2 separate regions of the Homo sapiens genome follow, and region 2 is linked to region 1. The links come from fine-mapping of genetic effects on gene expression. Tissue or cell type: whole blood. Region 1 holds a variant in brackets; the other region holds the start of a gene. All regions are shown on one strand. Distances are between the middles of the regions.

The links. PIP is the estimated chance that this variant, and not a neighbour inherited with it, causes the effect.
Region 2: it holds the start of RTKN2, and the variant in region 1 is fine-mapped to the expression of RTKN2 in whole blood (INTERVAL, PIP above 0.99).

The regions. Positions count from the first base shown.
Region 1 is chr10:62,236,565-62,245,114 of GRCh38, reverse strand. It overlaps RTKN2 (rhotekin 2), which reads left to right. Exons shown (of 12, transcript NM_145307.4): 4 at 3,920-3,973; 5 at 5,350-5,467. Among named protein-coding and RNA genes, the nearest start is that of LINC02621, 18 kb to the left of the region's middle. The variant T/GT (reference allele first, on the strand shown) is at 4,854.
Region 2 is chr10:62,265,363-62,273,838 of GRCh38, reverse strand. RTKN2 (rhotekin 2) reads left to right here and starts at 4,995. Exons shown (of 12, transcript NM_145307.4): 1 at 4,995-5,288. The coding sequence starts at 5,229. The region is part of intron 1 of LINC02621 (long intergenic non-protein coding RNA 2621); the gene reads right to left. RefSeq lists a silencer at 4,914-5,243.

The DNA of each region.
Region 1 (8,550 bases):
ACATGGCTGACTCGTGTGTACACTAGTCAGATAATGCACTTTTACAAATATTTTCTTATCAGTACATTTTTGAAACAATAGTATATACCTCCATTGGTCCTTAAGTAATCACTAGGTTATTGGCTAAAAGTCTTGTACTAGAGAGCCTGCTGCTACATTTGAGGTACTGTCACCTAAGGAACTGTTTCTAGTAATATTTTTCTGGATAAACAAAATTATCACACAGGACGGTAGACCTACATTTTACAAAGTACGTAAATGGCCAAAATCTGAAGAATTGCATTCAGCTAAGCAAAATATTCTTCAGAAAATAACTGGAATATGTAAAAATTTGTTGCTTGTTTTATAGTTATTTATATTTGTTTTTATCTTTATAATACAAAACAAAACATGTTTTATCCTTGTATTCTTTTGCTATCAAACATGTATTTTTATGTGGTATTGTTCATTATGTGCAATAAATTTTTTGTGAATAAATTACTATAGATCTTTGAGATTTTATAAAAACTAAACATATCCTTCATTTCTTGCTTCTAATATAGTGTCACTCAGTATATAAATGACATATGTTAAGTTGCTGTTAAACACTCAAATGCCATGATAGTCAACATCTATTGTCATTTCATAACAGTTTATTGATTGTAGCAATTCATAATATTAGAAATAACTGTACATTTAGAAGGAGGCTCAAGTAAAAGTATTTAAAATAAAATAAAAAACTATTTCCTGCCCACAATTACTCAAGTGTAAAAATTGAACTTATTTCTGCATGTGTTTCTTCTTTCCAAAAGATAATTTTAAATTAAGGAACGGAAACTCTGAGAAAATCGGATACTTACGTAATGTCTTTTCATCTTTGCCTAGACTTAATTATATCTTGTATGTGTTTGTAAAAACAAAATAAAAAATGAATTCACCTTTATAAATCCATTTTTTCTTGATATTGGGATGAAAATGTGACCTTTGTTTTGGTAAAGATGAATATTTGCAACAAAGTGTCATAATGTTTTGAGATTACATTGATAGCCAGAAAATACCTGGGTTTTCTGTTTCCAGCTACATCACTCCCTGGCCAGGTCTTTATGAAACTAAATCACAAATTTATTATTTCTGCTGAACATCAAATATTTACCATATGTAAATGTAGTATTTACCGTAATTATATTGTGGTAATTAGCTTAGTCACCGACTACTAATTTAATGAATAAACCAAATCAGTTCACCAAGTACCTTAGTTTTCACTTTTGAAAATGATAGACAGACTTCTGGGACTTGATAGCATCAAGTCAGCTGTCTTATTATGACTCTCCCAGTTTACCATTAAAATGGCAATGAAGACATAAAACAAGACAAAAGTTAGAGTACTGTAAACTGAAACTGAGCCATTTGCAAGAATCTGGAAGGAAGTTCTATCATTGGAAGCTGAATTCAGAAATAGAGTTGATGGGTTACAAATCCATTGCTATCTGAAGAGCACAAGACTACCTGGAAAATCGGTATCCAGCTTCTCCTCTTGTGGAGCTGATATCTACCCTCCTCTCTTCGGCATGGGATAGAAGAAGGCTGACCCACAGGTTGTGGGTGTACAGCAAAGGAAGTCAGGATCCATGTCCCTCCCATGATAGTGTAAATAGTTAATGCTCTGTTAATCCTAACAGAGCAAGAACAGCTGTGAATAAGTACAGTTGTGAAATGAAATGAGTCAGCAGCTGTGGTCAAGCAAGAAGAAGTGGACTTTTTGGCAGGATATCAGCCAAGTCATAATTACAAAACAATAAAGCATTCTCATAAAAATCAAAAACAAAATTACAATGTCTGTTATGCCAATATAATTTAACAATTTTAGAAGTTCTAGCTAAAATAATAAGAATAAAAGATGAAACTATTGAAAATAAATTCATAGGTGGGAATTGAGCAATGAGAACACATGGACACAGGAAGGGGAACATCACACACTGGGGACTGTTGTGGGGTGGGGGGAGGGGGGAGGGATAGCATTAGGAGATATATCTAATGCTAAATGATGAGTTAATGGGTGCAGCATACCAGCATGGCACATGTATACATATGTAACAAACCTGCACGTCGTGCACATGTACCCTAAAACTTAAAGTATAATAATAATAAAATTTAAAAAGTAAATAAATAGATAAATTGAATACTGTTTGAAGATAATAGATTGTAGGCCCAGCACAGTGGCTCATGCCTGTAATCCCAGCACACTGAGAGGCCAAAGCAGGCAGATCACTTGAGGTCAGGAGTTCGAGACCAACCTGGCCTACATGGTGAACCCCTTGTCTCTACTGAAAATCAAAAAATTAGCCGGGTGTGGTGGTGCATGCCCGTAAACCCAGCTACTCCAGAGGCTGAGGCAGGAGAATCACTTGAACCCCGGGGGCAGGGGTGGTAGGGGAGGATGGAGGTTGCAGTGAGATCGCACGATTGCACTCCAGCCTGGGTGGTAGAGCAAGACGCTGTCTCAAAAAAAAAAAGGTAATAGATTGTAGACTTACAAAACTTAAGAGAATTTACTGCAACACTATTTGAATGAATAAAGAATTCAGTAAAAGTGGCTGGATTCAAGATAAATATACAAAAAGTGGTAGTTTATCTTAAAATCAACAATAACTAATTAGAAAATATAATAGCAAAAAGATACCCTTTACAAGAAAACCTCCAAAAAACAAAAATATTAATTATTCAAGAATAACCTTAATAAAAATGTAAAGACAAATTATTATGCTATTCTGTGTAAAGATAGAATATTATAAAGTTATCAGTTCCCAAATTAATTTGGATAATGGAATACTAATAAAACACTTGGGAAAGGGAAATTTTGACAAAATTTGTTCTAAAATTTATATAAAGAAATTAGCAAGTAAGAGTAAGGTGTTTTCAAAAAAGAAATATATCTAACAAATTAGTAAGTATATTATAAAGGTACAATAGTTAACAGTAGTATAGTGTTGCCAGGCATGGTGGCTCATGCCTGTAATCCCAGCACTTGGGGAGGCCAAGGAGGGCAGATTGCTTGAGCCCAGAAGTTGAAGAACAGCCTAGCAAACATAGTGAACTCTGTCTCTACAAAAAAAAAAAAAAAAGTATAATAATTAGGCAGCCAGGCACAGTGGCTCACGCCTGTAATCCCAGCACTTTGGGAGGCCTAGGCAGGCGGATCACGAGGTCAGGAGATCAAGACCATCCTGGCTAACACGGTAAAACCCCATCTCTCCTAAAAATAGAAAAAAATTAGCCAGGCGTGGTGGCACATGCCTGTAGTCCCAGCTACTCGGGAGGCTGAGGCTGGAGAATCACTTAAACCCAGGAGGCGGAGGTTGCAGTGAGCTGAGATTGTGCCACTGCACTCCAGCCTGGGCAACAGATGGCACACACCTGTAATCTCAGCTACATGGGAGGCTTAGGTGGGAGGTTTGCTTGAGCCCTAGAGTTCAAGGCTGCAGTGAGCCATGATGGCACCACTGCACTCCAGCCTGAGCAACAGAGCAAGACCCTGTCAAAAAACAAAAAAAAGAAAAATAGTATGGTGTTGGTATTTAGCTAGACAGTAATTAATAAATGATTCAAATTCATAAAAGTATAGCCAAGGAACAGACATTTACTCAGAATGGCATATATGATAAAGATGTCATAATTAATCAGTAAGGAAGAAACAGATATATATGGAGTTAGAACAGTTATTTTTATAAGAAGAATATATTTTTACCTCACAAAAATTTGACAGATTAACTTTTTAAAAGTACAAACTATAAACAATGTCTAGAAAATGTGCTGTTAAATAATAACACTTTATTTTAGCTATAGTAGTCAGAATTATTATGGAATGCAGAGGTTCAGGTCACTGTAAAGAATAAAACTTACCAAAATTATTACTTGTCATTTCTTTTTCCCTTCTTTATAGATATTCGAATACCACTAATGTGGAAAGACTCTGATCACTTCAGCAATAAAGAACGTATGTATGATTTTAATTTGTAATTGAAATGTTTTCTTTAGTATGTAGTGTATCTGATTATTGAGAAAAAAGACTGCTTCCTTGCTGAAATAAATTGATGTCATTTGAAAGAATAAGCAGCATCTTGAACTGTTTTCTGATTTTTAATATAAATATGTTGCAGTCACTTGATACTAATTAATATAGTGCATATGTAGTGTACTTTTAGTTGTTGATAGGAACCAGTGCTAGGACAGTAAGTACCGGGTTCAGAGTGGGAACGGGGGAAGGGAAATATGGAACAAAAGAAAATGTTTAGCGAATAAAGGTAAAGCCAACATTTCTTGTATTTGACCAGAATCTGGAAGATTTTTCTGCCTTATTTCATTACTTCAGGTTATTTAACAGGATGAAATAGGGAAAGATTTTTAGCTTGATCTGATTTTTTTTCCTTCAATATTTTATGGTTTTATACAGTCTTTACAAATCCGTGTATTGCTTAGGTCATGGAAATTAACCTCGAATGATTTCTAGCTATTAGAGGCAAAGCAGGAAAGATATGATAATACTTTATCTTTCTTGTCTATTGTGATAGCTTTGTTCCTTGTACTTTAAAAACTGAATCATATTAAGCACAATTAGTTTTATATGAAGAATTTAAAATCAGGTTAGTATTTATTATTCAATTAGGAAATATAATTTACTTTACAAAGGAATACATGTGGGAATTAAGTAAAGCTTTCTGATTACTAAAGAGAGTAAGTTTTTCTGAAGAGCTACATTTTCTCAATAATGAGGATTTAGCCTTTTAATCACCTAATACTTTTTAAAACATCACCAAATCAAAAGGCCCAGCAGCTATGTTTTTTGTGTTCTCATGTCTATTTTATTGTTTTGTTTT[T/GT]TTTTTTCTTGTGGTTTCCTCCCTTGCTGTTAGTTTGGTGGAAAATATTTTGCTGTCGTTAATGTGCCTACTCTTAACCTCTTCTAATAAAAAACATCTTTTTCTTAAATAGACTTGGAAACCAAAATGACAGCGGTAGTAGTAGTGTGTGTGTGCACGCTTGCATGCCCGCGCATGTGTGTATATAAAGTTTACTATTAATTAAAGCTTAAGAAGTTTAATAGGAATAAAATTTATGAGTTTGGTGGTTTCTTTAGGCTGCTGAGAGGCCTGTATATTTAACTTTATTTTTTGCTTCCTTGTTTAATTGTGTTCTAGTTGAGTAAGGTATTCCTATATACTGGGAGAACAGTCACTGTAAGACTTAAGGGTTACAGTATACAATGTATGAAAAGAATCTATTAATAATATTTAACCTAATATTTATTTTCAAGTAGATTTTAACAATGATTTATTACATGGATTGTTGCTTAATATGTTGTTATTTTTCCTCCAGGATCACGACGCTATGCCATTTTTTGTTTATTCAAAATGGGAGCTAATGTGTTTGATACTGATGTGGTGAATGTGGATAAAACAATCACAGATATATGTTTTGAAAATGTAACCATATTGTAAGTATTTTTTAATCTTCAGAGAATAAAAATAATTTAAAATTCTTCTTTTTTAAAAGAAAGTTCTTATTATTGGTTCTTTGGATTCATTTTATGTTTAAATGTTTAAGTGATCTTTAAATGTTTAATATGATTTTAAAAATCATTTTGTTCAGAAGAAGTCCATTTCTCTATCTGCAGTTTTCTGATGTGAAATAAAAATGGAAATCTTGTAATTACTATTAGCAGTAAATATTTGACTTATTAGATATGACCCATTTTTAAATTGTTAATAAATATAGTTCAGTTATTAACAAAGCTATGCATACAACAGAATATCCTGTAATGTTATTTGATATAGAGAGAATTTAAGCATAAAACAGGATTTTTATCTCATGTAGGATATTTGGTTGCAGAAATACTAAAATAGTATAGCAACTTTATTTACAAGATAGTCCTGAAGTACATGCTATATAGGAAGAGCACTTTGAAATTTTGGGGTGTTCTTTTTCTTATGGTGCACTTCTTTCATGTACTTCAAAGCAATAAAAAAAAATGGGTGATCTCAGGGCTGTTTTTATTGTCCCTGCTCTTTTACAGGCTCATTTTATTGTGGTCATAATACAGAACAAGAAGGAACTCCTTGGGTAGCCATAGAAATCATTTTTAACTAACATAGTTTTTCCTGCCCTCCTTCAAAGGTTCTATGTGCCTAAATCAGTGTGGGATTTGTATTTTAGACTTTTAAAGACACGATCTTTAGATCTAAATGTTAATAGCTACTAACTATTAATATAAAAATCCATGTGCATGGTTTTTGCCATTTTCAGCTATGGAGCTAGACAGGTGAGATTTTAGAGGCCTAGTTTTGCCACTCACATAACATTAAAAAAACCTATAGTAAACCATATTTTGTAGCTTCTGGTCCAGTGTCTCATAGTAATAGTATAGCCTGGAAAAATAAAATGCATTGTTCTGAGTTATAAGTAGTAATTCAGGCCTTCTTACAAGCTGTATTGAACCAAAGGAATTTATTTAGGATCCAAAACATATCCCCAAATGCTTATATAATTGAGGCTAAAAAAATTACTTTTTTCTTGGTTATCTGAATACATTTATTTCCATTATCAACTATTGCTAGTGAACTTTTTTTTCTGCCAAAATTACCAGTTGATGGGCCCTTTTCTTCACATCATTTTGCTATTGTTTGTTTTGATCATGGAGACAAAAATCAGACTTTTTTTTCCAGGGAAAGAACAATAGAAGTTACTGAGGAAGACAACACATGATTTATAATTTTTTGAGAATTCTGTAAATATTTTAAATTGTACTAAAAATAACTGCTGACAAATGTTCTACATGTTGAAAAATGTGCTTTTTGTTATGATGATTGTTTTTAATAAGTATTCAATATTTATGAATCTCTGGTTTTTCTCTAAATATTGACATTTGTTAGTCATTACCAGGAATACTGCATGTTTAAAAGTTGCCAAATAATAAACTATAAAAATAGCTGGAAGTTATTCCTGGGATTTTTTCAAACTATAGATTGGCCATTTATATCTTTAAAAGTCTGTGCTCCATTTTTTAAATCTCTGAAACTGATGGATCTTCCATCTGCAAGTAACATCTGCTGCTGATGGACCTCTTTTGCAGTCTTAAGTATATTTTATTGTTAGTAACACCACCACAGTCTTTAATGCTAAAGGTAGTTCAAAGGTAGTTCGTTGTGTCTGAAAAAGGGTAAAGCCAATCTTAACATTTGCTAAAATTGCAGAATTTTGCGTATTTATTTGATAAATATATATCTAATACCTCCTACATTCCAGGCCAATACTAGATTAAGAACACAAAGATCACCCAGACAGCACCCATTCTCAAGGAGTTCATGCTTTGAAGTACATTTTTCCCCTGTATAACCAGATAGTAAAATGTTATTTATAGTTATTAGGTACAAAAGTGGGGGAGGGTCAGGGGACACAGTGACGAGTGCACTATAAGTGACTCTTTATAAAGAAGAAATGAAAACTAAAGGTTTAGCAGATTTTTTTTGGAAGAACAGTCATTTCAGAAAATTACACATATAAATACCTTAAAAATGTATTAAAGGAATGACAAGGAGAAATAGTATTGGCAACAAAATGACCAGGGTATTTTATGCTTTCTTTAACATGCCTATGTATATATTGGTTAAATTGAGTTAAGATTGCCCTAGTTTTGAAGCTGATATCTGTGAAAGTTGCGGTAACTCTCTCAGGCCATTTAGATGCTAAATAAACACTGAGAGATTCTGTCTCATTAACATACATTAACATAAACTTATTCCAAATTCTTATTTTTTTTCCCATAAACCTTGCACTTATTGAGGAGATTTTGCAATCTTCTCTTGGCTCCCCTGCAGTCTTTTATTTATTTTAAAAAGAAATTTTATTGTGTATATTTGAGGTTTATAACACGATGTTACAGGATACATATAAATAGTAAAATGTTACTATAATCAAACAGATTAACATCTATCATCTCACATAGTTACTTTTTGTGACAAAAGCAGCTAAAATCTATTTAACAAAAATCTCTAACATGATTTGATTAACATTCACCTCATGTTTTTACAGTACATTATATCTCTAAACTTATTCATCCTACATATCTGCTATTTTGTGTCCTTTGACCTATATCTCCCCATTTCCTCTCCCCCAGTCCTTGCCCATGGTAACCACTGTTTTTTTCTCTATTTCTATGGTTTTGAGCTCTTTTTTTTTTAATATTCCACATATAATTGAGAACACACAATATTTTCATTTCTATGCTTGGCTTATTTAACTTAATATCCTCCAAGTTCATCCGTGTTGTAGCAAATGGCAAGATCTCCTTTTTTAAGGCAGAATGGTTGTCCGTTGTGTGTGTGTATACACACGTAGCTTATTTTCTTTATCTGTTTTACCATTGATGGACATACCTTGGCGATTGTGAATAATGCTGCATTCTTATAGTTTCTTCAATATCTTGGCTATTGTGAATAATGCTGCAATGAACAGGGGAGTGCAGATAACTTCACAAGGTAATGATTTTACTCCTTCCAGTATAAACCCAGAAGAAGGACT
Region 2 (8,476 bases), 29 kb before region 1:
TTTTTCCTCCAATTAGTTATGTATTCATAGGTAACTATTACTTAATGTAGAATCAATACCAATATATATATATACGTATATTTGAGATAGGGTCTTACTCTGTCACCCAGGCTGGAGTGCAGTGGCGTGATCTTGGCTCACTGCAACCTCCACCTCCCGGGTTCAAGCAATTCTCATGCCTCAGCCTCCCGAGTAGCTGGGATTACAGGCACCTGCCACCGCACCCAGCTAATTTTTGTATTTTTAGTGGAGATGGGATTTCACCATGGTGGCCAGGCTGGCCTTGAACTCCTGACCTCAGGTGATCCATCCCCTCAGCCTCCCAAAGTGCAGGATTACAGGCCTGAGCCACTAATCCCGGCCCAATACCAATAATTTTAACGGTCCCTTTGACCTCCAGATGGTTTTTATATTCCAGGACAATGCAATGGGTGGAAGTGATGGCTTTCTTTTGTCAAATGGGAAAAGGTGATTGTGAAAGGGGGACCAAGGGGAGGCCTAGACAGCAAGGTAAGTTGTTAGGCCAATCAATTTCAGAATGAGGGAACCTAAGTTGAAAATCTTAACAATGCGTTCCTTTAAACAGTCAGACCTTTACATATACTCAGGCCTTGCAAAGTCTTTGTGTCCCCCAATTTAAGAACCACCGATTCAAGTTATACAACTAATTCCTGTGACTGATTTGCTTGGTGAGTAAAGAGCATTCTGATTATAATGTCACTTGAATTTCCTCAGGATTGTATGTAATATGTAGGTCACACTGACAGTAATAACTTAAATTGCACTTAATTTTGTTCCCGTCTGCTGACAAGAGCTCTCATCCCTTGCAAATTCTGCCAGACTCCTACCCCTTACTTCTCCCAAGCAGTGGTTCTTAAGTGTGCACAAATAAATCTACATAGCCAATTCTTCAGCATCTTTTTTCTGGTTATAGGTACCAATGCATTACAGCTGTGTTTTCCATGCTTTCACATAATAAAAATACAAAGGTAATGGATCAAATGTCAAGTCAAATTCTGTAAGCCAAAATATGTTTGATTAGTTTTAAAACATGTATTATTATATTATAATAATATGTATTATTAGTTTTATAAAAAACCCACACGTTATCACTATTGTTTAACATTTACAAGGACCTTTTTACATATTAAAAATTTCTTATTATGAAAAGTTTGATGCATACTAAATATATGTTATATATGTAAGTTACCAGGTAAACATTACAATTAATACTGGTGAACCCATCACCCAACTTAAGAACTAAAACATGACAAGTAAGTAGCTCTATATCTGCAGGCTCTGTGACTATCCTGTTCTCCTGCCTTCCTTCCAAAGCTGGCCATTAGCCTGAATTTTGTTTTTAGCATTCCTTTACTGTTAAGAATAAACTTTTATCACACACCTGTTTCCTTAAACAATGTGTTGTTTAGAGTCTCTTGTTATTCAAGTTTACAAATATTATATATTCTGCGTACTCTTCTGCAACTAGTTCTCTTCATTCAGTATTTCTAAGATTTAGTTATGTGTATGTTACTAAACATAATTATGGCTTATTTTTTAAAAGATACGTGACATTCTACTGGGTAAATCACCACAATTTATTAATCCATGCTCCTGAAATGAGCATTTGGATTTTAAAAATACTTTTGCTATGATAAGCAATGTTGCCTATACAAATTTGCAAGAATTTCCCACAGGATACATACCAAGGAGCAGAATTGCTAGGTAAACACATTTTCAACTTTACAAGACTGTTCTAAATTTGTTTTTTCCAAAGTGATTGGACATATTTCTATCTCCTCCACCAGCATATAATATCTCTTGGACCTGCATCTTTGCCAACCCCTAGTATTATCAGATTTCTTAATATTTCTCAATCTAGTGACTGTAAAATATCTCTTTGGGATCTTAATCTGCAGTTCACAGACTAATAATAAGGTTAAGCAACCTTTCCTATTTTATTTGTCACTTGGATTTACTCTCCTATAATATGCCTACCATACCTTTTGACCATTTTCCAGTTGAATTTTTATTGATTTATAGGAGTTCTTTATATATAGCATATTATTTAGCAGTGGTAGGTGATATATCTTGAATATATCCAATTCACATACATTTTTCTCATTCAGTTCTCATAGTTCTATAGGTACTTTACAGTTGCCTTTCGGTACTCATGTTTTCTTCCTACAGTAGTAACAACTCCTGTTTTTGTGGGACAGTTTACAAAGCACTCTCAAAAATCTTATCTGAGTCTCCCAACAACTTTAAAAAACAAGATGGGTATTATATACTTGTTTTATAGATAAGAAAACTGAGTGGCTTGCCCAAGGTAATCGGGCTAATAAATCCTCAGACTCCACATTCCATAGCCTCCTTCTGATTATGTGATGCTTCAGCTATTCATAGACATTCATTTAAGAAAATGCTGCACTTCTGCTTAGCACCTTGACCTCAGTTCCTTCTTTCTCTCTGTTTCTTCCATATATAATTCAAAATATAACTTTAATTTATTCAGTTCAACCTAAACAGATTATCTACAAGATGAACAGATGAGTAAAAGAAAGCACCAAGAGAATTTTTAAGAGGACTTTTTTTTTATAAGAGAGGCTAGGAGGATATTCAAAATCACAAGTTATCTGTTCTGTGTCAAACCACATTTTTCAAAATAATGGATCTGTTGTGTAACAGAGAGCTGATTTTAAGTTCAGTGTTTTCCTTTAGCCTCTTAGTTTAAAACAAGAATACAGAAAATAAGAGAAGAAAAATATACTTTGGCATCTATTGGTATTATCTAGATTGGCTTCTGTAGTTTTTAATTTATTATAATACTATCTGCTATATTAGGGATAACTAATATACGTATATTTTTAATTAGTATTAAATATTGACCTTATAGTGAGAAGTAATATTGGTAGGACAGTAATTCCATCACTCATCCTCTAGCTGAAGCTACTACATCTGGGCAGTTCGGTGGATATCGACCTTCTGTAAGAGCCCAGGGATGATGGGTTAAGAGATGCCCAAATGTTCTCTCTCAGATATTTGAGATGGTAAAACGTAGTACTTCTCACTTTCTGGGAACTGTAAAATAAATAGATTGATAGAGAAATCCTCAAGCTAATGAAGCCACTGCATATGAACTCTTTAAATTTTGTAGTTTCCATGGATGAGTATATTTTATGTGCATTACATACACCAGAGAAAACTGGCTGATGAAATTAGCAGTAACAAGTAAGGACTTGAGGATAAATAAGGAAACATAAGTCCTACTCCAAGGTATTTTAATCATCATATAATAATTAAGTACTTAAGCAATTCCTGGGGACCTCTCCCGGTGTATAATAAAAACAGGACCACATCATAACTTCTTCTCCCAAGAGAAAGGTCTCTTGTAACAACTGTATTCTACAGATAATTACTAAATATGATCTTGCCTAATCTCTTTCTTCTAGTATCATAAATAAATGTATCTCCAGTTAAATATCTGGTTTTAACTCATCAAATACTCCTCTATCAGTGTCCAATTCTAAACTGGTTGACTCACCTCTGTTTTAATGAAGTGCTGGCTTCTACATGTATTTTGATCTGCAACTGAGAGCTGTATGTGTTGTAAGTACTATGTGTCTGATGATGGGCTCGCGGTGTGTTTTTCTTTTGAGTCAGGTACTACAGCTAGGCTCATGCAGCCTCATACTGAGTAGGAGATAATTATACCACAAAGTGGTAGCATAAGACAGAGATGTGCATTGGAGGAAAGGGCACATAATGATTCTGAAATTCAGACCTGTGTTTGTAGAAAACGAGGTGAGCTCCGTGTTGATAATTTTGAACACATATTTTATTGTTGTAAGGATATGGGTCATTCATAATGCAAGGGGACCATCATTCCCAACTGGGAAGCTTCTAGTATCACCTAGTCCAAAAGGTCTTAAAGAGGCATTTTACCTATTTGAGGAAGGGTATCCATTATATTTTTAAAGTACATTCTCAAACCAACTGCTTTTAAAAGGGTCTTGCAGTTAAAATGACCACATAATATCCACTACGGGATAAGTGCAAGATTGGTGCAACATTGGGACAACAGACCCAGACAGGGTCTGTCCCAGGCAAATGAAAAAACATGGGCACCTATTTATGGAGGAAAAATGCCCAAGGGTTTCTAGGCGATGAGGGCTGGAGGGTTGATTTGGTAGACTCTTCAAGAAGAGGCTTCCTCTTGCCTTTTCAAGGGGGAAATAAAGATAAACTAGGGACAATGAATTTTAAGGACTTTTCAAGGGTGTGATATCTTTGCTGCTTTCATTTTGATTTTTAAAAATCCCATGTTTCCCTTTATAATTAACAAAATCCATGAATTAAAATGGGTCTTTGTGCTAATCTTTAGGGCAGCAAGAAATGAGGCTCTTGAGAAATAGTACCCCATTTTGCTATCACCTTAGATGTTGGAGAGGGAAAGAGAGGGCGAGAGAGCTGAAAGAAATCCTTCGCAAGAAAACAAAGTAAGTGGACAGAGTAGTTGGCGGGGAACATCTGGGATTATAAACACTGGGGGCAAAGACAAGACCTTGTGAAATGCCTGACATAGTATCTCACGAACCTGATGAATAAAACCATGATATCTGGGTGACCCTGGTGACAACGCTGGGAAAGGTGAGAGGAAACAGAGAGCGCTGTGTTTGAGAGTAATGTTATTGGTTCTTTAGGAACGAGACCGTGGGCTCTTAGTGACGCTGTGGGTTCCTGAGTTGTCTGGGAGTACAGGGACTGCAGCCTCGAGTCTGTCCAGCTACGATCACTTTGGAAGGCCTTCGGTGGGATGCGGGCAGAAAGCTCCCAGTGCAAAGGGCGTGCCACGAAAACCACCAGCCAGAAACCTGAGCTGGGACAGGTGCGCTCCGCCGCCGAAGCTTTCCCCGCGGCCCCTCCCACTCCCGTCCCAGGCCCGCCCACATCCCTGTCCGGGACTTAAGTCCGGCACCGCCGCCCTCTCCCCCGCCCCGCCGCGCTAGAGCCTGGGGTCTCGGCAACTTCCGGCGGCGGGAGCTGCAGAGCGCAAGGCGCGCCCACTGCGCGTGCGCTTCGGCCCGGCTCCTCCTGCGCCCCCGGCCCCTGCGACTGGGACTTGGTACGGCCGGGCGGTTGGCGTCCTCTGCGGCTCCTGCCAGGGGCGGGCTTTTCAAATCTTCCCTTTGAAGGAGTGGCGACGGCCCGGACAGTTCGCGTTGGAGATGGAGGGGCCGAGCCTGAGGGGTCCTGCGCTCCGCCTGGCGGGGCTTCCCACCCAGCAGGTGAGTTGCGGGAGGGACCCTGCCGCGGAAGGTGAGGGAGCCGGGGTTCTGTTCCTCGCGCATTTGCTTTGTGGAGGAGTCGGGAAAGCCTCTCCCCCGCTCCTCTATTTCAGCGGTGGCCAGAAACAAAGGGAGGGATTAGGAGACTGCGCTCTTGGGGCTCTAAAGGGCCTGGACATCGGAACCCCCGAGTTTCTCAGGCAGCTGAGGTCCGGATTGGGAAGGCGGTGCCGGGGTCCAGGCGCGCGTTTGCGGGCGCACCTGTCCGCTGCCCTCCCCAGGCTTTGGACGCCTGTCTTTTTGCAGGTGTAGGTGATGCCGGGGAAATGGGAGCCCCTCGATTCCCAAGAAACCCAGCGAGGCCAGTGGACAGCTGGCTTATTACGGATTTAATGGGAAGCACAGTAATGGAGCGATGTCTACACACAACACAGAACTGGTTGGGGGGAGGGGGTTCGGAGCGGAGTAGAGGCAAACAGCAACCTCTGCACTTTAGAAAAAGTTGAAGGTTTGATACTGGGTTCTTTCTCAAATCATTTGAAAGGAAAGAGGGAGTACACGTGACATTGGATAGAAGTTTGATGTTTGCTTTTGAGCCATGTAAAATGCGTTAGAAACCTTTTTATTTTACTTTTTACTAAACCAACATTATTTCTTGGCAGCATCAGTTATTAAAATGTTACCACTTTTCACTCTTAACCATAACTTTAGGGTCTTAAAAGAAAACTCTGATGTCTTTAAGCTGGACCTTCACTTCTATTTTAATCTCTACCTTCTTTTACCTACTTCAGAAATAGGTTAAGCCATATGAAATTGCCAGTTTTGTAGGTCAAAATTGGTAGAATATTTGCAATTTCATTCATATGGAGGCACCTGATATCTTTGTTTAAAAATCTGGGATTTCCTTAGCAGACACAAAATTATTAGTTTTCAATAATACTGTGAAAAATAAAGCAAGACATTAAGATTCATTATGCAAAAGAAGTCCAGTGTCTTTATCAGTAATACTTATGCTGTTTTATGCCAGCATTTTCAAAAATTTCAAAGATTTTGATGTACTTTTTTTCAGTCCTGTCCTGTTATGTACTTTGGCTGTCCTGATTGCTAACAAAATCTTGATTTATAGTGAATTGCCATTCTATTGATGTTCTTGCACCTATCATATAGGTGTAGGTGTAGCTGTCCAGGTGTATTTATTGAGCTGCAGGCTGCAAGAATAGGAATGGTACAGAAGCGACAAGAGGATAAAATCATGAAGTTTAGTTGCATGGAATGAAAATAAATGTTTAAATATACATAAAGCCTGGGTTATTTACATGTGGGAAGATACAATACTTAATTTCTTAGGCAGGACAAAATCAAAATGATTGAAATGTGGAATTACTTCCTCAGTTTGGATTTGAAGAAAAAACACAAAATAGTAGTAGGTTGCAACCTAACAGGAATATTGAGAGTCAGATAATTTTATACTTGACTAACACTGAATTTTTATTTGGTATTTCCTTTGATACATGAATGAAGCTGCCACGTAATCGAGATAAGGCCAAAGATTTTGAGGTGGTCACACACTGGTCAAACACCTCTGCTGAAACCCTGGAGTCCTCTGCGACTCCTCACAGCATAGAGTATTGGCTTTGGAGTCAGATTCAGGTCAAACCAAACTCTTCTTGTTGTGCAACCTTGAATAAGTTATCTCTGTTTTCTAAGTTTCAGTTTCCACCGTTGTAGCTTGGGTATTCCGCCTATCCCAGACAGCTGTTGGAATTGGAGAACCTCTCTAAAGTACTTATCACAGCACCTAGCACTCAGGATGTGCTTCAGAGATGACTATTGTTGTTATTATCCTTTGTCCTATTCATCTGAGTGGTTAGGGCAGTCCCCTACTTTTCTTACAAATGTTTAAGCTTTTGGCATCTTAATAAAAATAAAATTCAAAAAGTAATACTATCTCATTGCAGAAAAGTCAACATATACAGAAACATGAATTTAAGAATTCGGTCTCCAGTTCCATTCCCCAGAATGGCCGCTGTTAACAATTTCCAGACTTTTTTCTGTACATAAACAATTCTTAAAATCCACACAGTTTCTTTTAGCAAAATGAGAACGTACTGTATTTACTCTTTTCTTCTTCACCTTGGTCTTTGTTAACATGGCTTAACTATATCCATTAGGTGAATCATAGTTTCTGTCTTGATTACTGCGGTTGTCTTACCGGGAGTTCAACTTCAGGTTTTTTTAGTCAGTTTTTAATACCAACAATAAAGCCATTTTCTTTGCACTTCCTTCATGCTAGGCTAGCTCTTAAAACCTAGTAGGTTTCTGTTTCCTACTTAACCTAAATTTCTGTTTTTAAGGTATGCTCCTATTTCATTCATAGCCTTGTCCATATATTTTTATCAGCCTGACTTTAACTACTTATAGCGTCAGGACAGTGACACAGGCTTCTGTTTGACTTGATTAGAGGCAAGCCCTTACTCAGAAAATTGGAAAAGAAATAAGAGTATGATGGCCTTACCTCATTCTCTGCTGTTCCTGGAGACTGGCATTCAAACAATCCTAAAAGGAATGGTTACAGAGAGACCAGCTTTTGTCTTTGGTCCTAATCAGCCTTGACTCTACCTGGCCAAGCCATTATGGCTGAGGGAGCGACACTGATGATTTTCCATTCCCTACTCATCTTCTTTGAGGTTAATAAACATCACTATTGAATGCCCAATCGGTACCCTTATTACATGATCATTATTCTTGCTGGGGATAGCACTAGACATGAACCCTTACCCCTGATGCATTGTATACCCTTAGTAACTAAAGACAACTCTAAAGAGTTTTGGTTCCATAAACCCTTCCTTGCTAGAGCTAGCACTGCTTAACCAGAGAGGCTTTTTCTGCATGTAAAATGTAGATGTGTACTAAAAGAAGTTGCATGGGAAATACAAAACTGGCTAAAACAGTAGCCTTAAGAAAAAAAAAAAAACCAACAGCTCAGAATACATTGAAAACCATATGTACACTTAACAATTCATCCTGCTTATGTTAGCCTTCTGGGATCCACTTAACTGACATTTGCCTGAGACCTGCCTCAGCGAGGGAGGTAAGATTATAGTTTACTGTGTATGTTAATTTGGCTGGATTATGGGTCAGTAAACTATTTCTATAAAGGGGCAAACAGTAAGTATTTTCAGCTTTGC